Linked DNA regions of Homo sapiens. Changing the gene in region 2 together with the main gene of any one other region gives a genetic interaction. Each region holds a gene or a part of one and is shown on either strand. Other genes may lie near its edges. The genes, in order: MANF, GBF1, DNAJC3, SLC35E1, XPOT, KDELR2 and UBA6.

The links.
Region 1: changes in GBF1 (region 2) and MANF together harm fitness more than expected from each alone (negative genetic interaction), as found in Homo sapiens cells (one study listed by BioGRID).
Region 3: changes in GBF1 (region 2) and DNAJC3 together harm fitness more than expected from each alone (negative genetic interaction), as found in Homo sapiens cells (one study listed by BioGRID).
Region 4: changes in GBF1 (region 2) and SLC35E1 together harm fitness more than expected from each alone (negative genetic interaction), as found in Homo sapiens cells (one study listed by BioGRID).
Region 5: changes in GBF1 (region 2) and XPOT together harm fitness more than expected from each alone (negative genetic interaction), as found in Homo sapiens cells (one study listed by BioGRID).
Region 6: changes in GBF1 (region 2) and KDELR2 together harm fitness less than expected from each alone (positive genetic interaction), as found in Homo sapiens cells (one study listed by BioGRID).
Region 7: changes in GBF1 (region 2) and UBA6 together harm fitness more than expected from each alone (negative genetic interaction), as found in Homo sapiens cells (one study listed by BioGRID).

What each region holds. Positions count from the first base shown.
Region 1 is NC_000003.12:51,384,084-51,388,090, forward strand, and holds the start of MANF (mesencephalic astrocyte-derived neurotrophic factor precursor), read left to right. Parts: upstream 1-1,207; 5' UTR 1,208-1,259; coding exon 1,260-1,353; intron 1,354-2,124; coding exon 2,125-2,252; intron 2,253-3,653; coding exon 3,654-3,795; intron 3,796-4,007. UniProt on the Homo sapiens protein: Selectively promotes the survival of dopaminergic neurons of the ventral mid-brain. Modulates GABAergic transmission to the dopaminergic neurons of the substantia nigra.
Region 2 is NC_000010.11:102,378,032-102,381,531, reverse strand, and holds part of GBF1 (Golgi-specific brefeldin A-resistance guanine nucleotide exchange factor 1), read right to left. Parts: intron 2,249-3,500; coding exon 2,098-2,248; intron 2,012-2,097; coding exon 1,881-2,011; coding exon of another isoform or gene 1,839-1,880; exon of another isoform or gene 1,803-1,838; intron 1,680-1,802; coding exon 1,578-1,679; intron 1,284-1,577; coding exon 1,170-1,283; intron 1,027-1,169; coding exon 846-1,026; intron 406-845; coding exon 277-405; intron 1-276. UniProt on the Homo sapiens protein: Guanine-nucleotide exchange factor (GEF) for members of the Arf family of small GTPases involved in trafficking in the early secretory pathway; its GEF activity initiates the coating of nascent vesicles via the localized generation of activated ARFs through replacement of GDP with GTP.
Region 3 is NC_000013.11:95,683,639-95,687,138, reverse strand, and holds part of DNAJC3 (dnaJ homolog subfamily C member 3 precursor), read right to left. Parts: intron 1-3,500. UniProt on the Homo sapiens protein: Involved in the unfolded protein response (UPR) during endoplasmic reticulum (ER) stress.
Region 4 is NC_000019.10:16,549,337-16,552,376, forward strand, and holds the end of SLC35E1 (solute carrier family 35 member E1), read right to left. Parts: 3' UTR 501-3,040; downstream 1-500. UniProt on the Homo sapiens protein: Putative transporter.
Region 5 is NC_000012.12:64,407,392-64,410,891, reverse strand, and holds part of XPOT (exportin-T), read right to left. Parts: intron 931-3,500; 5' UTR 857-930; coding exon 797-856; intron 1-796. UniProt on the Homo sapiens protein: Mediates the nuclear export of aminoacylated tRNAs. In the nucleus binds to tRNA and to the GTPase Ran in its active GTP-bound form. Docking of this trimeric complex to the nuclear pore complex (NPC) is mediated through binding to nucleoporins.
Region 6 is NC_000007.14:6,474,153-6,477,652, reverse strand, and holds part of KDELR2 (ER lumen protein-retaining receptor 2), read left to right. Parts: intron 1-3,368; coding exon 3,369-3,469; intron 3,470-3,500. UniProt on the Homo sapiens protein: Membrane receptor that binds the K-D-E-L sequence motif in the C-terminal part of endoplasmic reticulum resident proteins and maintains their localization in that compartment by participating to their vesicle-mediated recycling back from the Golgi.
Region 7 is NC_000004.12:67,621,156-67,624,655, reverse strand, and holds part of UBA6 (ubiquitin-like modifier-activating enzyme 6), read left to right. Parts: intron 1-402; coding exon 403-530; intron 531-1,433; coding exon 1,434-1,521; intron 1,522-1,730; coding exon 1,731-1,825; intron 1,826-3,500. UniProt on the Homo sapiens protein: Activates ubiquitin by first adenylating its C-terminal glycine residue with ATP, and thereafter linking this residue to the side chain of a cysteine residue in E1, yielding a ubiquitin-E1 thioester and free AMP.

The DNA.
Region 1 (4,007 bases), on a different chromosome or scaffold from region 2:
ATCCAACAAGTAATGTGAATTTTAGATGTAAATATCTGCCACTTGATTTTTTTTCCCCCTTTCCCCACTTCCTTGACTGCTGTGATGTGAATTAAAGATAAATACGTGATACTGATCCACTGAATTCACTGAATGGGAGCAGAGGATGTGCCCCTCTCCAACCCTTGTCGCCGGGCTCCAAGCCCTTTTTAGCCCTATAGACATGTCCTTTTTGCACTGAGTAGAGCCAACGGTTCCCGCATCCTGCCTTGAAGGCAGGCAGCCAGGAGGGCACTTGAAAGGAGGGCAGTCGAAAAGGAAACATCCTCCAGTGCTTCTCTGGTGATTCCCGGGACCCCACTCAGGAGGTCCCACGGCAGCGGGGGACCCCGAGGGCCTAGCCGGGGAGGCAGGAGGAGGCTGGCCAGCCACCAAGCCACGATTCAGAGCTTGTAAGGGCACCTCCCGAGCCCCTCACCTTCCCACTCTGAGGCGACCCCATGTCCTCGACCGATGATCTGGCCCGGGCGCTTCCCTCCACGGTCTAGAGTGGCGGCCCAGCTTTGAGCTTGGCGCGCCTTGAGCCCTTCCTTCAGATGTCCCGCAGTCCGTCCACCCCGCACGTCTCCTATCAGCCTATGCACGGCGGGCTCCGGTCAGGTGGAGGATCAGCAGGTGGGCTTTCAAAGGTTGGATCCGTTGCCCACGCGAATGAAAGAAGAAAAAAGAAACCTCTTTGAGCCTTGCCTGCGGCCGCCCGCCCTTCCTGCCTAACCTGTTGTCTTGGCTGACCCCAGAACTCCTGCACCACGAGTCGGAGTCCGGGCGAGGAGATCAGCAGGGGTTTTCGAGGGAGCCTGGGGCCCAGGGCAGGGGTACGCGGGTCAACTCAACAGATGTAAGGCGTGGCCGAACCCCATTCAGCTAGCAGTACCCAGCCTCAGCCACAGTCGCTGCCCTTACCCAAGATGGCGGCCCACACCGCTTCCGTCGCTGCTGTAGTCGCTTCCTGCGGCCAGCCCGGGTTCAATCAGCGGCCGACAACTGTCTAGGGCTCAGACACCACCAGCCAATGAGGGAGGGCAGCGTGGAGCCGCCCGTCTGGGCTCGCGGCTCCTGGACCAATGGGGAAGTGGCATGTGGGAGGGCGCCGGGGGGCCCCCCGCCAATGGGGAGCTACGGCGCGCGGCCGGGACTTGGAGGCGGTGCGGCGCGGCGGGTGCGGTTCAGTCGGTCGGCGGCGGCAGCGGAGGAGGAGGAGGAGGAGGAGGATGAGGAGGATGAGGAGGATGTGGGCCACGCAGGGGCTGGCGGTGGCGCTGGCTCTGAGCGTGCTGCCGGGCAGCCGGGCGCTGCGGCCGGGCGACTGCGAAGGTGCGGGATAGGGGGCCGGGGGCCGCGCTCCGTGACCGTTCTGGCGGCGGCGCTGAACCCCACAACATCACCAGACGGCCGGGGCCAAGAGGGCGAGGGCGGGGGCGGGGGCGGGGGCGACAGCAGGTCCCCGCGGGGCCTGCATGAGGAGGCTCCGGCGCCCGCCCTAGTAAATCTTTCTTGGGCCTAGAAAACATTGGTCCGACGAAGAAAAGTTGAGACTAGATCCCGTTGAAAACTTGTCCTGAAATCTCCATCACTCCTGAGTTATTGTCCCCACCACCATCTAGAGGTTACCGCTCCCCGTTCGGCGTCGGGAGCTCCAGGGCTGGCCGTGGGTGCTGCGCCCTGTCTGTTGGGATCACGAAGCTGCACCTCTGGGTCCGCTGTTGTATTTGGAAATTAGCAGCAGCATTTTGATCATTTTTCTCTTCACCTTCCAGTCTCTCCATTTATGAGGTCACAGTGAGTCCCGTCTCAAGGACACGTGTTCACCATGGGCTTAAACTTGATGAAAGGAGCAGGGAGAAGTCGTTTATAGGTCATTGGGTGATGCTTGGTCCTTTGATGCCCTGGGTGTACCAGGGGACCCCCGCCACTTGGAACCGGGTTCTGTCTACCTGTAGACACCTGAGAAAAATCGGTGATGGAAAAGCTCACCTCTAATGATTCATCTCCGTGTCTCCTATTAAAATTGCTGGCGGAGTTCTTTTCTGGTGGATTGGAACAGCTTGGTGATTGCTGAGCATCTCCCGTCCCTCTCTTTTCCAGTTTGTATTTCTTATCTGGGAAGATTTTACCAGGACCTCAAAGACAGAGATGTCACATTCTCACCAGCCACTATTGAAAACGAACTTATAAAGTTCTGCCGGGAAGCAAGAGGCAAAGAGAATCGGTTGGTAAGTAGCTGGTGATCCTCCCCAACTGGCCCTGGCTCATGTTAACCCTCGGCTTCACCAGCCGTTTGATAAAAGGCCTTGCCCACCTCTCTGTTCAGGAAGCCAGCTACTCTCTCCATAAACTAATGTGAGAAGACTGAAGTGCTTCTATGTCCTTCCCAAAGCAGCATGTGTTCTGCAACTGTGATTTTTTTTTATCCTGTTAGTCTTTATTAAGCACCTACTATGTGCTAGGCACTGGGAATATCAGGGGAAAGAAGTGACAGTCGGACACACAAATAATGCAATGTCTGGGTGTCATGAAGAAAATGGACCAGCAGGTGCTGATTTAGAGTGGCCAAGAAGTCTCTGAGGAAGGGTTATCATTGAAGTGGGGTAAGACCATCCCATACAGGGAACAGCAGTGTGAGTGCCCAGAGGCCTGAAAGAGTGTGGCATGTATGTGGACAGGAGAAGGTGACAGGGTGCCTACAGGATAGGCAAGGGCCGAATCCAAGACAAAAGCCCTAGTGAAGCAATGGGTTTTCTAACTTGAATTTCTCTGACAGTCTCTGGCTTTTCTCTCTGTTAAAGGTTTGAACCCTGGTGACACTTAAATTCATTTGGTGGCTGTCAGCTTGGACTGAGCATGTGTTAAGAGTCCAGGGTTTACACTGGCTGAATCTGACTACCAGTACAGGCAGGGCACCGAAAAATGCCGCTGTGGGCCAGGTGCGGTGGCTCATGCCTGTCTTCCTAGCACTTTGGGAGGCCAAGGTGGGAGGATTGCTTGAACTTAGGAGTTTGAGATCAGCCTGGGCAAAGTGGTGAAATCCTGTCTGCACAAAAAAATTTTTAGGCTAGGCGTGGTGGCTCACACCTGTAATCTCAGCACTTTGGGAGACCGAGGTGGGTGGATCACCTGAGGTCAGGAGTTCAAGACCAGCCTGGCCAACATGGCAAAACTCTATCTCTACTAAAAAATACAAAAATTAGCCAGGCATGGTGACAGGCGCCTGTAATCCCAGCTGCTCAGGAGGCTGAGGCAGGGAGAATTGCTTGAACCTGGGAGGCGGAGGTTGCAGTGAGCCGAGCCAAGATTGCGCCACTGCACTCCAGCCTGGGTGACAGAGCAAAACTTTATCTCAAAAAAAAAAAAAAATTGTTTTAGTTAGCTGGGTGTGGTGGCCCACACCGGTAGACCCAGCTACTAGGGTGGCTGAGAGGGGAGGATCACCACCCAACAGATTGAAGCTGCAGGGAGCCGTGATCATGCCACTGCATTCCAGCCTGGGTGACAGGGAGCCCTATCTCAAAACACAAGTAAGGCCCTACAGAGAGATGATGTTTCAAGGTGTCAGTATGTTTGGAGGAGATGGCTCTCAAGCACCTCCTGAAGGCCATTGTCCTTTATTGCTCCAGTGCTACTATATCGGGGCCACAGATGATGCAGCCACCAAAATCATCAATGAGGTATCAAAGCCTCTGGCCCACCACATCCCTGTGGAGAAGATCTGTGAGAAGCTTAAGAAGAAGGACAGCCAGATATGTGAGCTTAAGTATGGTGAGTATGCCTAGTCCTTTCTTAATGAATGCTGTGCACCTTCTGGGTTTGTTTCCCATCTGGGAGAGGAAAATGATGAGCTAGAGTCATGAGTGGGTTGTATTGTATGACAGATGGTGCTAAATGCTGGAGGGCTCTGGCATGGAAGTGGGTGGAGGTCAGAATAGGCCTTATTGAAGAAGTGATATTTCAGCAAACTTTGAAGGAGGTGA
Region 2 (3,500 bases):
CTCTCTACTAGAATCCCTGAAAGGAAACCTCTGCAAATTCATTCCAAGTCCCTGACCCAGCCTTCTCTTCCCAAGCCTGAAGACTGCAAGCAGCTAGTTCCTCATAGCTTATGGTCCTGTCATTTCCCATGGGAAGAGCGGCAACAGTTCTCTCTAGTGGCCTTCTTCCCTCGGCTCACAGACCCTGCTCAGCAGCATTCCCACGCCCCCTTGGGCCTCCTCTTAGGCCCCCTGCTTGCTACTCAGTGCCTATCAGGCTAGGCTAGAGAGACTCACCACAGGCCCCCAGCTCAGATGGAATCTCTGGGGGCGGTGGATGGCCAGGTGTCCTAGTGTCGCCAGCAGCGGAAGTCAGGTGGGCTGAGGCGAGAGGCTTTTGGCCTTGAGGCTCCATGGGCATGGGGTCTGGAGACGGTAGAGAATTGAGATGGCACCTCTTAGTGCTTTCTCTCTCCAGCAGAGCCCTAGCTACCCAACAGCCTTTCTACCCACCCAGGGCACAGACAATAAATTCAGCTTTGGGGACTTTTTTTTTTTGAGATGGAATCTCGTTCTGTCACTCAGGCTGTGATCTCGGCTCACTGCAACCTCCACTTCCCGGGTTCAAGTGATTCTCCTGTTTCAGCCTCCTGAGTAGCTGGGACTACAGGCACCCACCGCCACACCTGGCTAATTTTTGTATTTTTCGTAGACATGGGGTTTCACTATGTTGGTCAGGCTGGTCTCAAATTCCTGCCCTCGGGTGATCCACCCACCTCGGCCTCTCAAAGTGCTGGGATTAGAGGTGTGAGCCATTGTGCCCAGGCAGGAGACTCTTTTTGATAAAGCTGGGCTGAGCCCCCTACCCTGGATGACGGTCTGCTTGAAGAGTTCATCTCGTAGGTGAGGGAGAAAACAGTCAATGCGTTCCCAGGTGATCTCCCAGAGGGCCGAGGGGCCGCCTCCCCGTGCATCTGCACTGTGGAAAATCTCCGCTGTGTCCATCACCAGAAGCATGTTCTTCAGAGACTCAGGGATCGCCTCTGACTGCAGGTGGCAGTGGGACCATGAGAATAGGAAAGAGGGCATGGGGGGAGTATGGTAAAGGGAGGTAGCTACCAAGGGGGAAAGGGCAAGTCCTTCCAACAGGTGGGACAGGAGGCAGGCAGCAGAGCTGAGGTAGAACATACCAGTAAGTCGCTGGAGCCTGCGTGCATGTACTTGTCCATGAAGTCCAAGATGGTGAGCCAGAGGGCCGCAAAGGTAGAGAGTGACAGCAGTGGAGACAGGTGCTGCAGGAAGACCTATGGCCCACCAGCCCCCTTCAGCTGAGGGGACTGTAGGAGCCTCTGGACCCCTCTCTGAGGCTGGGTAGCTAAGCCTGTCCTATCTTGCATGAGAATCTTAGATCAGAGATGGAGGAATCTCTGATTTAAGATTCAGAATCCTCTCAGGTCCCTAGGTCCTGCTTAGTGTCCATAGCTGGGGGGTTGTGAGCACCTACAGTGCATCTCTAGGTCCTGCCAGAAGCCCTGGCTTCCCTCCTCGGGAAAAGGCAGGTATGGGAGAGAGGGTGGGTATAGGGTGGTGAGCAGTACCTTAGAGAGCAATGTGGAAGCCCTCATCCGGGTCTCCTCCATCCCACCCACATCTGCAGGGCTGATGTTCTCCAAGAGCTTGGTAAGTAGAGGAAACAGCACCTGGTGGGGGTAAATGTGCAATGTCTCCCTATGAGGTTCAGCTAGGCAGCCTTGCCCCAAGGAAGCCAGGAACTGGATGGGCATAGAGCTGAAGGGAAGGTATGATGCAGGCTGAAGACTCACATTAGGGGCTCTTCAGGCTGCCTGGCTTTCCTTTTCTTAGGATTTGAACTTTATCTTAAGACCAGTAGGAAGTCCCACCTTGTTAAAACAGGACTCCCATTCCAGGGCATCTAGCTTTTGCAGATCATGTACAAGTAGTGCTCGCTGCAGATAGGTCAGTGCCTGCATCCGTACCTGGCGCCGGGCATCGCAGCACAGGCAGGCAATACCTGAGAGCAAGAGCAGGGTCAGGATCCTTCAGGCATCTTGATCCTGATGCTCCCCAAACTCCCTACCTCTGCCCCTCCTGGTTTACCCTGCAGTAAAGGGCACCAGCAGTGGGCCCAGAGGGTGCGAGAATCAGCTTCAATCTTCTGGCCACCTGTCTCCAGGTGGCGTTGCTCCTCCGCCCATGAGCTGTAGATAGAGGCTGCCCGCGTGTGCAGGGTGTGCATCAGGTCTAGCAACTAGGATCACAGGAGGGGGCAGGATGTGAGTGGGGTTAGGTCTCGTGGATCCCTTTCCCCCTCCCCACTCACTGTCCCTAACTAAGTCCTCAAGGTGTCCCTAGCACCAATCATGCCATACCTCACCCCCTCGCTACTCTTTCCCTTGACTTGACTTCCTGGTTGTTCCAGTCCTTGTAAAGGACTCTCCAAGTCAGAGATTACTCATGAGAGAGAGAGCCTTAGGAGGTGTGTGGACTGAGTATTTCACAATCCTTACTCACAGTGAGAAAGATACTTTCTTTTCAATTCTATTTCACACCTGCTGATGACAGAGAAAGCCTCATGTTGTTAATTTAATTTTATTTTTTGAGGCAGGGTCTCACTCTGTCACCCAGGCTGGAGTGCAGTGGCACAATCACGGCTCGCTGCAGCCTCGAACTCCTGGGCTCAGGTGATCCTCCCACCTCAGCCTTATGAGTAGATGGAACTACAGCTGTGCGCTGCCACAGCCAGCTAATTTTTTGTATTTTTGTAGAGATGGGGTTTTGCCATGTTGCCCAGGCTGATCTTGAGCTCCTGGGCCCAAGCAATAGTCCTCCCAAAGTTTTAGGATTACAGGTGTGATTATACCATGCCCGGCCTAATTTTATTTCTTATTTTATTTTTTGAGACAGGGTCTTGCTCTGTGCAAAACTGGAGTGCATGGCACCATCATGGCTCACTGCCTCCTGGATCTCCTAGGCTCAAGAAATCCTCCCACCTACTCAGCTACTCAGCCTCCCCAGTAGCTGGGACTACAATGTGTGCCACCATGCCCAGATAATTTTTGCATTTTTATTTTTGTAGAGGCAGGGTCTCGCTATTTTTCCCAGGCTGGTCTCGAACTCCTGGCCTCAAGTGATCCTCCCGCCTCAGCCTCCCAAAGTGCTGGAATTACAGGTGTGAGCCACTGTACCTGGCTGTTAATCTCATTTTTAAAACAGAAAACCTCAGGCTCAGAGGCTTTGATTGGGCAATAGTGTCTGGCCAGATTTAATACATTTTTACTTTCGTTATTTTTCTTTTCTTTCTTTTTTTTTTTTTTGAGATGGAGTCTTGCTCTGTCGCCCAGGCTGGAGTGCAGTGGCATAATCTCGGCTCACTGCAAGCTCTGCCTCCCGGGTTCACGCCATTCTCCTGTCTCAGCCTCCCGAGTAGCTGGGACTACAGGCGCCTGCCACCATGCACAGCTATTTTTTCTATTTTTAGTAGAGACGGGGTTTCACCGTGT
Region 3 (3,500 bases), on a different chromosome or scaffold from region 2:
CAAAAGCCATATGCAAAAAAATAAAATACCTAGGAAAACACTGACCAAGGAGGTGAAAGATCTCCATGAGAACTACAAAACACTTATGAAACAAATCATATATGTCATAAATAAACACAAAAACATCCCAGGCTCATGGATTTGGAGACTATCATTAAAATAACCATACTGCCCATAGTAATCTGTAGATTCAACACAATTCCTATCAAATCACCAATGTCATTTTTCAGAGAACTAGGAAAAACAATTCTAAAGTCCATACAGCACCAAAAAAGGGCATGAATAGCCAAAGTAATCCTAACCAAAAAGAACAAATCCAGAGGCATCACATTACTTGACTTCAAATTATACTACAAGGCTATAGTAACTAAAATGGCATGGTACTGGTACAAAAATACGCACACAGATCAATGGACTACAATAGAGAACCCCAGAAATAAAACCACATACTTACATCCAACAGATTGATCTTTGACAAAGCTGACAAATATAAACAACAGGGAAAGGACACCCTAATTCAATAAATGGTGCTGGGAAAATTGGCTAGCCATATGCAGAAGAAACTGGATCTCTGTCTCCCAGCATATACAAAAACTACCTCAAGATAGATTAAACATTTTGGACATTGGCCTAGGCAAACAACTTATGACGAAGACCCCAAACACAAATGCAACAAAACCAAAAATAAACAAATGGGACTTAACTAAAAAGCTTCTGCACATCAAAAGATAATCAACAGGGCAAAGAGACAAACTACAGAATGAGAGAAAACATTTGCAAATTATGCCTCCGACAAAGGACTAATATCCAGAATCTACAAGACACTCAAACAACTCAACAAGAAGAAAACAAAGAACCCCATTAAAAAGTGGGCAAAGGGCCAGGCGCACTGGCTCACGCCTGTAATCCCAGCACTTTGGGAGGCCAAGGCGGGTGGCTCACAAGGTCGGGAGATCAAGACCATTCTGGCTAGCACAGTGAAACCCTGTCTCTACTAAAAATACAAAAAATTAGCCGGGCATGGTGGCAGGCACCTGTAGTCCCAGCTGCTTAGGAGGCTGAGGCAGGAGAATGGCGTGAACCTGGGAGGCGGAGCTTGCAGTGAGCCAAGATCGTGCCACTGCATTCCAGCCTGGGCGACAGAGCAAGACTCTGTCTCAAAAAAAAAAAAAGTGGGCAAAGGACATTAAGAGACATTTCTCAAAAGAAGACATACAAGCAGCCAACAAACATGAAAAAATGTTCATCACTAATCATCAGAGAAATGCAAATTAAAACCACAATGAAATATCAATCATCTTACACAAGTCTGAGTGGCTATTACTAAAAAGCTTAAAAAAAAATAGATGTTAGCATGGAGGTGAAGAAATTGTAACACATATATGGGTGGCAGCAATGTAAATTAGTTCAACCACTATGGAAAACAATATGGAGATTTCTAAAAAAAAACAAAAAACCTACCACCAAGCCCCAACTCCAACATTAGGGATTACAATTCAACATAAGATTTGGGTGGGGCACAGATCCAAACCATATCATTCCGCCCCAGCTCCTCCAAAATATCATGTTCTCACATTACAAAATACAATCATCCCTTCTCAACAGCCCCCAAAGTCTTAACTCATTCCAGCATTAACTCAAAAGTCCAAAGTCTCATCTGGGACAAGCCAAGTCCCTTCCACCTATAAGCCTATAAAATCAAAAACAAGTTAATTACTTCCAAGATACAATGGGATTATAGGCATTGGGTAAATAGTCCCATTCCAAAAGGGTAAAACCGGCCAAAAGAAAAAGGCTACGGGCCCCATGCACGTGCTAAAACCCAGCAGGGCAGTTATTAAATCTTAAAGCTCCAAAATAATCTCCTTTGACTCCATGTCTCACATCCAGGGCATATTGCAGCAAGGGGTGAGCTCCCAAGGCCTTGGGCAGTGCCACTCCTGTGACTTTGCAGGGCTCAGCCCACGCGGCTGCTGTCAAGGGCTGGCAATGAGTGGCTGCAGCTTTTCCAGGTGCATGGTGCAAGCTGTCAGCGGATCTACCATTCTGGGGTCTGAAAGATGGTGGTCTTTCTCACAGCTCCACTAGGCAGTGCCCCAGTGGGGACTCTGTTGGGGGCTCCAACCCCACATTTCCCCTCTGCACTGCCCTAGTAGAGATTTTTCCATGAGGGCTCTGCCCCTGCAGCAACCTTCTGCCTGAACATCCAGGCTTTTCCATATATCTGAAATCTAGGCTGAGGCTCCCAAGCCTCAATTCTTGGCTTTCAGCACCTGCAGGCTTAACAGCATGTGGAATCTTCCAAGGGTTTGGGCTGGCACCGTCTGAAGGCCTGAGCTATATCTGGGCCCCTTTCAGCCATGGCTGGAGCTGGAGTAACTAGGATGCAGGCAGCAGTGTCCTGAGGCTGGCAGGGCCCTGGCCCAGGAAACTGTTCTTCCCTCCTAGGTCTCTGGGCCTATGATAGAAGGAGCTGCCTTAAAGGTCGCTGAGATGCCTTGGAGCCCTTTTTCCCATTGTCTTGGCTATCAGCACTTGGCTCCTCTTTACTTATGCAAATTCATGCAGTCTGCTTGAATTACTCCCCTATAAATGGGTTTTTCTTTTCTACCACATGGTCAGACTGAAAATTTTCCAACTCTTCTGCTCTGTTTCCCTTTTAAATGTAAGTTCCAATTTTACATCATTTCTTTGTTCATGAATATGAGCACTGGCTGCTAGAGGCCAGGTCACATCTTGAACACTTTGCTGCTTAGAAGTTTCTTCCACCAGATACCCTAAATCACCTCTCTCAAGTTCAAAGTTCCACAGATCCATAGACCAGGGGTACAATGCCACCAGTCTCTTTACTAAAGCATAGCAAGAGTGGCCTTTACTCCAGTTCCCAATAAGTTCCTCATCTGCGGTCATTCTGAGCCCTCCTCAGCCTGAACTTCACTGTCTATACCACTATCAGCATTTTGGTCACAACCATTCAACAAGTCTCTAGGAGGTTTCAAACTTTCGTTCCTCTTCCTGTCTTCCTCTGAGTCCTCCAAACTGTCCCAACCTCTGCCCATTACCCCATTCCAAAGTTGCTTCCTTCTACAATTTCAGGTATCTTTATAGCAATGCCCCACTCCCAGTACCAATTTTCTGTATTAGTCCATTCTCACATTGCTATAAAGAAATACCCGGAACTGGGTAATTTTTTTTTTTTTTTTTTTGAGATGGAGTTTTGCTCTGTCACCCAGGCTGGAGTGCAGTGGTGCAATCTCGGCTCACTTCATCCTCTGCCTCCCAGGTTTAAGCAATTCTCTGCCTCAGCCTCCCAAGTAGCTGGGATTTCAGGCGCCCACCTCCACAACAGGCTAAGTTTTTTTTTTTTTGTATTTTTAGTAGAGACGGGGTTTCACCATCTTGCCCAGGCTGATCTTGAACTCCTGACCTCGTGATCCATCCACCTCGGCCTCCCAAAGTGCTGGGATTACAGGCGTGAGCCACAGTGCCCAGCCGGAACT
Region 4 (3,040 bases), on a different chromosome or scaffold from region 2:
CTCCATCTTTACAAAAAATACAAAAATTAGCCAGGTTTGGTGGCACATGCCTGTATCCCAGCTACTTGGGAGGCTGAGGCGGAAGGATCCCTTGAGTCTGGGAGGTTGTGGCTGCTGAGAGCCGGGATTGCGCCACTGTACTCCAGCCTGGGCGACAGAATGAGATCCTGTCTCAAAAAACATGAAACATACCAAAAAAAAAAAAAAAAGTTTCATAAGCACAGCTGCCACAATGTTCCTGGACTTCCCATGTTATTCCGTTCAATAAAGTCACGTCATTAATTTAGCTGTGATCCTATTTTCATTGTATCATCTAATCAATTCACAAATTGCACGTCCTTATTTTTGGCTCAGAAGAAAAAACAAAGGTTGCAGTAAATCCAGACGTGACAGCCAAGTTGGCTTGCTCTTTCTCCTCCTTCCACATTTTGTTGCTGGGCACACTGAAGACAGGGCCACTCAAAAAGAGACCCTCGCTGACAAATCGGGACCAATTTTGATTCCCTGGAAACCATCATTTATTTTTGGTAAATGCCAGTGAGGAATATACACGTCATTCCTGCAGAAAAGTCTATAGCATTTAAGTCTTGAAAACAGGTGACAATTGAAAAACATTATAATATTTTCAGGTCTTTTAATAATTCAATGCTCTGTGTCCTTCAGGCTGTGAGACCCTAAGGTATTGGGGTCTGGTAATGTCCCAGCTATAGCAAAGGGCCTGTTGGGTGACATAGGACAAATATACAGCAAAATTCAGAAACTGCAAGTGCTTCCTCACTTGAACGGATCTGGCCCCTTTGTGGTAGGGGCTTGACTGTTCCTAGAATGAATGACTTAAAATAAGGTGGTTAAAAATTCTGCAGTGAGTCTCGCCATGGTGAACAAACATGATTCAGAAATGCCTCCTTCTATAAAATGAAGGAGCTGGGTTGGAGTCAGTATTACCAGCCAGACCATACCCTGATGGGTAAAGGAAATTCTCTACCACAGAGCTCAGCAGTGAGGTGGCTGAGAGGAAGGCAGGCCTGCAGATGAAAGCGTGGGAGTGGAGCATGTGGGGCGGGCACTGTCCGGCTGGGAAAACCCAGCCTTCAAGAGGCCATTGTCAATCAGGCTGGGCACGGTGGCTCATGCCTGTCATCCTAGCACTTTGGGAGGCCAAGGTGGGCGGATCATTTGAGGCCAGGAGTTCGAGACCAGCCTGGCCAACATGGTGAAACCCTGTCTCTACTAAAAACACAAAAAATTAGCCAGCCGTGGTGGTGCATGCCTGTAATCCCAGCTACTCGGGAGGCTGAGGCACGAGAATCACCTGAACCCGGGGGATGGAGGTTGTAGTGAGCTGAGACTGCGCCACTGCACTCCAGCCTGAGCAACAAAGCAAGACTCCATCTTGGCAGGGGGCGGGGGGATGTGGACCTTCAAGTCTCAGAAATATGTGTTTGTCTTTTGATCTGCTGATTTGGTGTAACGTGATTGCCTCATTCATTCCAGTGTACGTACTTGCTGTAAATTTATATACAGAATTAAATAGCCCATTTATTAATTTATAAACCATAATAAAACCAGACAGTCATTTCCCGTCACCAGCAGATCTTGCATTGGAAAAGGAAAATAATATACAAATTTCAGCAACTTCAGAGATTTCAGGAAGCCTGAATGGAGGTCGAATTCATTTTGGAGTTCAATAATATGTTCAAAGAATCAGGTACTATATATAATCATATAGACAACTCCCGTAATATCTCCGCAGTGCAAAATTATCCCTGTTTCTTGTCATTCACCAGTGAGAAAAATCCAACTGCAGACTTGACTGCCTTCGGTGAAGGCACACGGCAAGTTCTTCTGACAAATAACACCCTTTGGGATTGACTCTTCACGTTTTACACAGCAATTGTCTCAGCTTGGGACCAAAGTATTTACAAAGCAAGCGAACAAGAGACGAAGCAAGAGGGACACTTCTGAGGCCGGTGGTGCGGAAACTCACCGCCAAACAGGGTGGGGGGCCAGTCACCTCTTCAGGAGTGTCCCATGTGTCAGCTGACATAACATCTTAAATACAGAATTCCAATTGAAAGAAAAACAAACAACAACAAAAGAAACACCAGTCAAGCATAAGTGATGTTACTTCCTCTCTGAACAGGGAAACATCTCGCTCGCTGGGAGATAAAAGGTAAATCTCTCATTTGCTGCTCTCTTCCCCTAAGTGCCAGCAAGAAGCTGGGTGTGGTGATGAAGAAAGAAGGCAGCCATCACCTAAGACCCCACAAGCCAAGCCGTGGTCCCCTCCGTGAGGGCACGGTCCTTTCATGAAGCCGTAAAAGAGACCACAGCTCGGACCTGAGCACTCAGGGTTACCTACTGGGGTCTTGTCATATTCCTTATGTTGATTTCTGCCAAGACCCAAACTGATTCCTTTTTTTTTTTTTTTTTTTTGAGACAGAGTCTCACTCTGTCACCAAGGCTGGAGTGCAGTGGTGTGATCTCAGCTCGCTGAAACCTCCACCTCCTGGGCTCAAGTGATTCTCCTGCCTCAGCCTCCCAAGTAGCTGGGATTACAGGCAGGTGCCACCATGCCTGGCTAATTTTTGTTTTAGTAGAGATGGGGTTTCACCATGTTGGCCAGGGTGGTCTCAAACTCCAGTGATCCACCCACCTCAGCCTCCCAAAGTGCTGAGATTACAGGCATGAGCCACCACGCCTGGCCCCAAACTGACTCTTGACCAAAGAATCTGATTTGGCAAACCAAATCTTAGTGCAGTGTTCGCTCCTCGTCCCCTTACCCAGAACATGATTCAGATCCTAACATAAACACAAAAACAGGTCAGGGAACCAAAACACTGTGGTCTTGTCTATTATACAAAATATTGAGATAATGTTCACGATTCATTCTGTTTTCAGCAATTGTGACAATTTTGAAGCTTCTCTCGAAGCTTCGAAACACTTCATTTCCTACTAAATACCAAAACGTGTCAGACAGGCATCACCAGTGGGAACTTGGTTTTGTTTTGTTTTTTTTTTTGAGATGGAGTCTCGCTCT
Region 5 (3,500 bases), on a different chromosome or scaffold from region 2:
TCCTTTCCACTTACCCTATAGTTCCAAATGCCCACGTCTTTAAAAAAAATTAATTATAGGCTCATTCTTTATATTTTTCTATCATTCAGCTATAGTCATGATTATAGTTGTAGGCTACATTATATTTAATTGTTTACATTTATCCAACTATCCCAGCACTTTATAATGGATTCTTGTCATGTAACCATTTTACTTAAGACATAACCTATCATAACTGCTTATTTATGTCTGCCTAGACCAAATAACAAGAAAGTTAAATATCACTAATGTGGCCGGGCAGGGTGACTCATGCCTATAATCCTAGCATTTTAGGAGACTGAGGTGGGCAGATCGCTTGAGCTCAGGAGTTCGAGACCAGCCTGGGCAAGATGGTGAAACCCTATCTCTAGAAAAAAATTAAAATAAAAAAAAAATCATTAAGGTAAGTGTTAAAACAGCTTGTATAGATCAAGCCAAGGAAAGAGAAAATAAAATACACATGTCTGCTGCTATGGAAAGTCTCTTAAACGAATCCTTTGCATTACAATTTTTAAATAATTAGAAATAATGACTGATGTTGCATAAAGATCTGCCTTGAATCATATGAGATTTTAATACTTTTGTTTGGCCAAGTAAACAGAAAATAAATCACAACACTCACTGTTTCTATATTCAAAATATATTCAAATACCTCAAATTTTTTTGTTTCTGTTCATTTCTACCCAAAGTAAACTTTTGCCAGGTGCATTTTTATTCAAGTCCTCTAATGCCAATCTGTGGTGACATGATTAAAAAATGATTCAGCAGAGTAACTTACCCTTTGTCTAAAGTCTGAATCAGCATTTGGATTTAGCCCTAATAGAGCCTGTTCATCCATCCTCGCTGTTATACTTGTAGTTTTCTGGTTGTAATAGGCGTGCCCTCTGATCCCACAGAAGAATTTATAAACATCTGCCACAAAAAACAAAGTTGAAAGAAAACATTACTTGATAAACAAATAGATGCTTATCCTGAATAACGTAAATGGATAAAATCATGCAAAGAAGCTTAAATGTTTAAAAACTTATTTTGGAACTTATCTAAATTACAACTAAAAGTTAGAGCCTAATTCTCAGAAAAATGGGCTCTGCTAACTACTCCACTAATGTGTAATTCCTAAAAATCTGATTTTTTTTTTTGAGACGGAGTCTCACTCTGTTGCCCAGGCTGGAGTGCAGTGGCACCGTATCAGCTCACTGCAAGCTCCGTGTCCCAGGTTCACGCCATTCTCCTGCCTCACCCTCCCGAGTAGCTGGGACTACAGGCGCCCGCCACCGCGCTGGGCTAATTTTTTGTATTTTTAGTAGAGTCAGGGTTTCACCGTGTTAGCCAGGATGGTCTTGATCTCCTGACCTCGTGATCCGCCCGCCTTGGCCTCCCAAAGTGCTGGGATTACAGGCATGAGCCACCCCACCTGGCCCCTAAAAATCTTAAAGTATGCCATAAAGGTCCTCAAGCTTTCTTAGTCTTCAAGATCTTCTTAATAAGGTATAGAAAGTAATCATTTTCTACTTTAAATAGTAGAAGTACCTAATTTATGCAGTGTTTTACTTATCTCTAGTACTTAAAAATGCAATTGTGCAACTGCAGTTAAGTATAAAAATGACAAATGCAGACTATTACAGTAATTATAATAATTTGTCTACTTCCAGATACAAATATCACAAACCTTCTTTAAAACATTAGAATGGCTGACCTCAGAGTTCAATATCCTTTGGAGTGTTTACTAAGTACTATGACAGAAGTCTAATGAAAGGAACAGGATAATGAAAAACCAGTCATTTAGCTTTTGAGCAATGGACTTAGTTTTGCATTTTACAGATCTCTGCTCTTGCCAGCCAATTCTAAAAATTTCAAAAAAAAAAAAGTTTTTCAATAGTAGATACAAAAACCCACAAACCAGCCAGCTACAGTGGCTCACACCGGTAATCTGAGAACTTTGGGAGGCTGAGGTGCGCAGATCACTTAAGGTCAGGAGTTCAAGCCAGCCTGACCAATACGGTGAAACCCTGTTTCTACTAAAAAGACAAAAATCAGCCAGGCTTGGTGGCACATGCCAGTAATCCCAGCTACTCGGGTGACTGAGGCACAAGAATCGCTTGAACCCAGGAGGCAGAGGTTGTAGTGAGCCAAGATTGCGCCACTGCACTCCAGCCTGGAGAACAGAGTGAGATTCCATCTCAAAAAAAACAAAACACACAAAAAAAAATCCACAAATGACTTAACACTGACTACTCTTATTTAAGGATTTTTTTTAATCTCTGAGAGGTAATCCACTTCTTCACAATATAGGTTCCAACATTCTCAAATAATAAGCTGCAAAAGGCATCCTAGTTTTTGATAGAATGCATATTCATTTGAGCAAACATGGAACAAACTCTAAATGATGTGAAAAATGATATTATTCTCTCAAGACCTATAAGGTAGGGAGACCAAGTCTTACTACTTCCATTAAACGCTGTGGGGGGCCAGGCGTGCTGGCTCATGCCTGTAATCCCAGCACTTTGGGAGGCCGAGGCAGGTGGATCACTTGAGGTCAGGAGTTCAAGACCAGCCTGGCCAACATGGTAAAATCCCCTACTAAAAATACAAAAAAATTAGTGGAGCATGGTGGCACACACCTGTAATCCCAGCTACTTGGGAGGCTGAGGCAGGAGAATCGCTTGAACCCAGGAGGTGGAGGTTGCAGTGAGCTGGGATCACGCCACTGCACTCCAGCCTGGGTGACAGAACGAGACTCTGTCTCAAAAAAAACAAAAAAAGGCTGTGGGGCTTTTTGTTTCAATTACCGTTAACCAAAGACGCCAAAAAACTAATTGGATTGGGGGTAGGGGAGAAAAGCCTTTTGGGAATAGCAGGGGTAGGGGAGAAAGGCCTTTTGGGAATAGCAAAACCAGGCTCAGGTCCAGGTTACAGGATACCTACAATAGGCTTTTCTGTTTTCCTCTGAGCCTGCCTGAATCAAATAACTCAGGATATGGACTGAGAGCTTTGAAGACAGCTCAGCCCTTTCTCTTATGGTTCATAACGTACTTGCAGACTTCAAGGCAGTGTAACTCCCTACTGCCCTCAGATTACGATCCAAACACTTTTGAATAACTCCTCACTATTCTGCACACCAGGTCAGCAAGGCCAGTGCTAGTGAACCATATGGCAGTTCTCCAGTGGTATTCTACCTTTCATCTTTGCACACTGCTCTTTCTTCTTGTTAGTAGGTTAACCCCTGCTGTCCTTTGAAATTCAACTTAGAAGCCATCTCTTTCAAGAACACTTCTTTGACCTCTATTGTCCAACTCTCCCAAATTGGATTACATGCCCCATCCTAAGCACTGCTATGCTGTCACTGCCAGCTTACTAGTTTTCTCTCATTAATCTTTTTTTTTTTTTTTTGAGACAGTCTCACTCTGTTGCCCAGGGTGGAGTGCAGTGACATGATCTCGGCTCACTGCAGCCTCTGGCTCCTGGGTTCAAGTGATTCTTCT
Region 6 (3,500 bases), on a different chromosome or scaffold from region 2:
TTTAACCTGGCCCAGTAGGATAAGACAAGAATGATGTTGTTTAATGACTGATTTCCATTTAACAAGTTGTACTCCTTAATATAGATGTTTGGTGTATTTGGTAAGGGGATATCAGTTTCAGAAACATTTACAAAAGTGAGTATTCTGGGAGATCTTATTACCTGGTAACCTTAGCATGCTTTGATCTCAAAGTGGAGAGAAGCCGACTAGGAGCTGCTCTGGTTTAATAGCAGGTATTCTACTCCCAACCCCTCCAGGAGATTCTTGCCCCACCCCCTTCTGTCTTCAGCTAGGATTCCCATTTTCCTATGAAGACAGGACAGTTTTGTTGTTTTAAAGGAAGAAGCTGCTACTTCCTAATCAGGATCTCAGGCTGGGGAAGAACAGTGTGGGACCACGTTAGCATCCGCAGATTTCCAGCAAGGCTGTCCTGCGTGGACGCTACTCCATGGACCGGCTTCAAACCACACACTGCCCTGTGCGCACCTGGGGCTCTCTCACCCTCTAGCTAGTAGTTAATTAGGGCAGAGCCCTATTTACAGTCACAGAGACACAGTATGACCTGGACATTCTTCAGAAGTGTTCTCCCAAAATACCACAAAATGAGAATTTGACCCCATGACATGAAGATAAAATGAATCCCATTTTCTTTTGTCCATTTATTCATTCAGCAAATATTTTCTGAGTCCTGCTGTGTGTCAGGGCCCAGTGTCCCATGCAGGGAATACAAGATGGAATAAGGCATGACCCCAGCCTTTAAAGATCTTGGTACTGAGTGAGGTTTTTGGGGAGAGGAGAGGCAGGAACCACATCATCACAGTGTATTTTTATAAGTACTGTAATTGGAGCTAGGGCAGCAGCTGGCATGAAGCAGTTCCCCTTATGTGCTTGCTGAATGAATCAACAGTCCTGAGGGAGGGTATCTTCAGAGATGACATCCCAGAGGAGGTGGGATATGAGCTGGGTCCCCACGGGGGCTGGTAAAGACAATATGATGGTCCCTGGTTTTCAGTATAGGAATGCTGGGAATGAGGACACAATTTCAAATCTGCCTGGCTTCCAAAGTTCTGTTAGAGTAAAACCCTTTCCCACAAAATTCACCTACTTGTATCCTGTATGTTTATATTTAAAATATTGGAAAGAACCATATAGGAAATAAGCTGGAAATTGATTTCTCAAGGCTTCAACAAACACCAGGTATGGTCTGACTGCTCCCTGTTCTTTCTTCTTCCCCCTCTGAAACCTCCCGGTTTCTTGGTTAGCAGCAGCCTTGTCATTTCCCCTTTGGAACATTGGTCTCTGTAGGAAGAAATCAGTTATCCGTTACGGGGAAAAGACTAAGAGCAGATTCACTGTCCGTGTCTCCTCCTTTGGCCCTTTGGTTTCTATTGATGGATCTGGAAGGGTGGCATCAACATTTTTTTCCATTTCTATTTAGATGTGTATGTGAATAGGCTGAGACTACAGTTATTCATCTGAGAAAGTAACATTCTTACATTCAGGTTTTCAGTTTCAGCAAGCTGCAAAATGATTGTTCATAAAATATTGAAAAACAACATGTAATACAAATATTAGCCAGGTGTGGTGGTGCACCCACCTGTAGTCCCAGCTACTCAGGAGGCTGAGGTGGGAGGATCACCTCAGCCCAGGGAGGTCAAAGGTGCAGTGGGCTGTACTTGTGCCACCGCACTCCAGCCTGGGCAACAGAGTGAGACCCAGTCTCAAAAAAAGAAAAGAAAAATAATGTGCTTTTCACGTTCCAGAGGAGTGTTGTGAATGATTTGGGTGAAGTGACTTTTCTGTTAAATTCATACTTACTAAAATGTGTAGTGGTGTGAAGTATGCATTATAGATGAGGGTGGGTGGGTTCTGACATTTAGTCAGCCTTCAGTTTCTTTAATGCATTTGCTCAGTCTCCAGCATCTGAAACCCATAGTTTGCGTCCTTTGTCACATAAATATTTGGCCAAATATAGATGTCAGAAAAGCTGTGTGCACACCACATAAATGTCCAGCCTTCCTGGCTGAGTGTGGCTGTGCCATGCAGTGCTCTGGAGGTGGGTTGGTGGTTGGAAGTGGAAACACAGTTTCAAGGCTTTAAAAAAGACAGCTGCTTTTGAAGACCAGCTGTAGTTGTGGGTTCATACCTTCATGTTGTCCTAGCATTCAGGAACATTTTTATACAAATACAATGGAATTTCTATTTTATTGTAATTAATTTATTTTTTGAGACAGGGTCTTGCTCTGTCACCCAGGCTAGAGTGCAGGGATGTGACCACAGCTCACTCAGCCTCAGCCTCCTGGAGTCACGCAATCCTCCCACCTCAACCTCCCATGTAGCTGGGACCACAGGTGTGTGCCACCTTGCCTGGCTATCACTTTTCTATTTTTCGTAGAGATGGAGTCTGGTCTCAAACTCCTGGGCTCAAGCGATTCTCCCGCCTTAGCCCCCCTATATGTGGAGATTATAGGCATGACCACTATGCCTAACTGAGAGGGAAGCTTTAAAAATCTTAACATATCCAAGTAATTGCCGCTCTTAGCAAAGAAGTCACCATGGGATGCGATGCCATTATTCCAGCGGGAGTTCCTGCCCAACTCTTACCTGAGTCGGTGCTTCTCATCTACTCCTCATCCCCCTTAATGACAGTAGACTCCATCTCCGTTCTCAAAAGATTTCTCACCATGGAGATACTGTTTTACCATACAAAGAAGGGACCAGGCGACATGGCTCATACCTGTAATGCCAACGCTTTGGGAAGCTGGGCCCAGGAGTTCAAGACCAGTGTGGGCAACATGGTGAACAAAAAATTTGTTTAAAAATTAGCTGGGTGTGGTAGTTCACACCTCTAGTCCCACCTACTCTGGAGGCCGAGGTGGGAAGATTGCTGAAGCCCAGGAGGTCAAGGCTACAGTGAGCTTGATCGTGCCTCTGCACTCCAGCCTGGGCAGCAGAGGGAGACCCTGTCTCAGGGGAAAACAAAAAAGAAAAATCTGAATGTAAGAGACAAGTTATAACACTAAATGACAGCAGAATTATTGAGAAATTTGTTCCTACTTAAGGTGATATATTTGAGAAGTAAAAGGTTCGTTTGAATGATACACATCCTGGCATAATAAAGCCCCTTTCCTGTGGTCGCCCTTTATAGTGAGACAGAAAAGCCTGTTAGAGCCTCCCAAAAGGAGCATGTTTGGGAATGGGAAGGGATAGAAAAACTACAACTGCTCTTGTTCATTCAGAGCCATCCCTAGACCTGGGCCTTGACCCCACGCACCCCTCCTTCCCTGTCTGCACTCCCTGCACAGTGTGATCCACAGGAATCCCAAAGCTCTTCAGGCCCTTCTAATACTTCCCTTCTGTTTCTCTAGGTATTTCTGGGAAAAGCCAGCTTCTGTTTGCACTGGTCTTCACAACTCGTTACCTGGATCTTTTTACTTCATTTATTTCATTGTATAACACATCTATGAAGGTATGGTATGCCATCCACAGGAATGTATTTC
Region 7 (3,500 bases), on a different chromosome or scaffold from region 2:
TCAGAATCTTTAAGTGCGGCCCTAGTTATTATACCATATTACATCATTACTCTATGTAATTATCTATGAAGCTATGTAGTTATTTACCCCTGTATTAAGTGATTTTAGACTGTTGTTATTTTTTGAGTTACAGCATGTGCTTTCAAAATAGGGAGACTGTATGGTTGAATTAATATTTTTTTAAATAACTGTTAACATGTATAGAGTAGGTTGAAAGTTTGAAAGTATAAAATATACTAAAAGTATACAGACCTGTAATAAGAAATTTATATTACTATAGTCCCATAGCTGCTTTTACTATCCACAGAGAAATGCTTGAAAACGTGAAAGTTGAATAGATGCAATTAAAATCACGGATAGTTTTAGGCTGTTTATATTATCAGATCACCTTCTTTTATCTAGGTTGCCTTGGAGATGATCAAAGTAACTGGTGGCTATCCATTTGAAGCTTACAAAAATTGTTTTCTTAACTTAGCCATTCCAATTGTAGTATTTACAGAGACAACTGAAGTAAGGAAAACTAAAATCAGGTATGTATGAAAGTCTATTTCTCTTGTATAATGAGAATGAAATAAAATATTTTACCTTTTAAAAGGGAAAAATACTAGCTTCACCTCTTTTTTCTTCTATTGTGTATGTGTAAATTTTTGCCATCACTTCAAGATCAGCTCAAACCTCATCTTCATTAAATATTTCTGACTAAAGTAGCCAAAGAACCCTTACAGCACTTTATCTGCCACATTATTTGGCATTATGGTTTCATCTGTGTCTGCCAGATGAATTAGAAGGTACCCTGGTGTCTGACTGTAGGTCATGAGATTTAGAAGAATTCCACAAGCTTGAGACAAAGCAGAACAATTCCTGGGCCTGTACTTTTTAGTTTTCAGATTGGCAACAACCAAAAACTTGAAAAAAAACCTACCTTAACAAGGGTGTGAGAAAGCAGACACTCTCATACATTACTAATGAGAGTACAAAATACTATAATCCACAGTAAGGGATATATAGCACTATATTTCAGATACATTTGCACAAGTCTCAAACTATATATTTGCAAGATAATTATTCTGGCATTATTTATCGTGGCCAATGATTAGAATAACCGAAGTGTCCAGTAATGGGGTACTGGAACATCCACACAGTGAAACCCATTTTAAAAAGAGAGAGACAACACTGTCTTGCTAAAACATACTGATTTATAATACACTGGAAGGATCAGCAAGGTACTGATTAAAAGTGGTTATCTATATGATGTGATGAAGAAATAAGATTATGGAATATTTTAGAAGATATATTATCCTTTATTTCCCCACATTAATTTCTAGCCTGATCACAAATAATGGACTTCTGAAAGTGGGTTTTTTTTGTGTGTGTGTCATCACTAAAAGGAAGAAAATTTCAATGTTTCTGTTCTGAATATTTTTCTGTAACAGAAATGGAATATCATTTACAATTTGGGATCGATGGACCGTACATGGAAAAGAAGATTTCACCCTCTTGGATTTCATAAATGCAGTCAAAGTGAGATACTTTTGTTCATTTAGTTCATTAGTAGCTTTATGTCTGGTTTCTGTTTTGTTTTTATTTATAATTTTATTGGAAGTTATAATTATTTACCATGAATTTGCTTTTTTTACTGGTCATAAAACATTGTTTACGAACAATGTTAAATAAGCATTTTATGTTTGAGCGAGGCTTTCATTGTTTCTTTTTTGGATATTCACTTTTAGGAGAAGTATGGAATTGAGCCAACAATGGTGGTACAGGGAGTCAAAATGCTTTATGTTCCTGTAATGCCTGGTCATGCAAAAAGATTGAAGTTAACGTAAGTATTCAACATTATATGCAGCGATTAACAAGAATTTAAATGTAAGTTGATGCACACTAAAAAATTAAATATAGAGGTTACTATAATTCAGATAAAAGCATTAGTCTTGTCTAATGACATTAATAAAGACAGTGAATCTGCCAGGTGAAGGCCAACAGGCTACCTCTCGAGAGATTCAGCTCTTCAGTTAATAGGTTTAGAAACCTGATTTGGCCAGTACACTTAAGTAAAAGTGGATCCGTCTCTTATGTTGAGACACTTAATGACCAGGCTTATGAGTAATCTAACTGCCAAATCACTATTTTTGTTCATTTATTCAACAAATTATTGTTTAAGGTGCCAGCTGTGTGCCAGGTACTATTCTAGTCATTAGGGAGATAGCAGTTAGCAAACCAAAGTTCTTTCCTACTTAAGGAGTTTGCATAACAATAAGGCAAGTATGTTAGGTGATAGTAAGTATTATGGAGAAATTAAAGAAGAATAAAGAGAAAAGGAAATATGGGGAGTTGGGGGTGTTGAGTTGCTATATTATACTGAGTAGTCTAGGTTTTCCCTTTGCCTATCATAGTCTCACCTGTTAAGGTGGAATTTGAGCAGAGACTGAAAGGAAGAAAGAACCAAAGAAAGCTAAAGTCTTTATCGTGGTCTGCAAGACTCTAAATTTAGATTCCTAGTTATCCTTCTAAGTTCCTTCCTTACTTTCCCTTCACAATATTCCAGCTACACTGGCCTCCTTATTTGTCCTTGAATACTCACTCTAATCATGCTCCAGCATGGGACCTTTGCTTTAGTTGTTCCCTCTGCTTGTAACTCTGAGACAGTGACCTGGCCAAGTCTCACCCCTGGTCTTTGCACTTCCTAAAGAGGCCTCATTTAATACTGCAACCTGTCCTCAGCCCCAGTCTAGTATGTCTAGTCCCCTTTACTCTTCTCTACTTTTTCTTTTTTTCAGAGCACTTATTACTGTCCTATGACTGCTGTGCTGCTGTGTATTTTGCTTATATTTATTGTTTGTTTGTTTTTGAGACGGAGTCTCACTGTGTCGCCTAGGCTGGATTGCAGTGGCGCGATCTCAGCTCACTGCAACCTCTGCCTCCTGAGTTCAAGCGATTCTCCTGCCTCAGCCTCCCGAGTATAGCTGGGATGACAGGCACCCAACACCACACCTGGCTAATTTTTGTATTTTTAGTAGAGACGGATTTCACCATGTTGGCCAGGCTGGTCTTGAACTCCTGACCTAAGGTGATTTCTCCCGCCTCAGCCTCCCAAAGTGCTGGGATTACAGGCGTGAGCCACTGTGCCCGGCCCATGTACTGTATATTAGCTATTTACCTGCTACTAGAACATATATTTCACAAGAGTGGGAATCTTTATTTGATCTTGTCACTGTTGTATCTCAAGCACTTAGATCAATACCTGGCAAATAAAAGGTTACCAACAAATATTTGTCAGACTAGTAAATGAATCTCTGCATGATGGTTGTGTTTAACGTATCTATTGGCTTTAACTATGATAATCAGTTGAGGTTAATCATTCTTAAATTATGATCTAGTCTGAATTATCTGTACCTTAAAAAGTAAAACTACTATTTTATTAGCTAAGGCATTAATTTGCCTTATATTATTTTTCATTAGGATCCCTCAGTATCTTTTGGATCAAGCAAGGCTAGTGT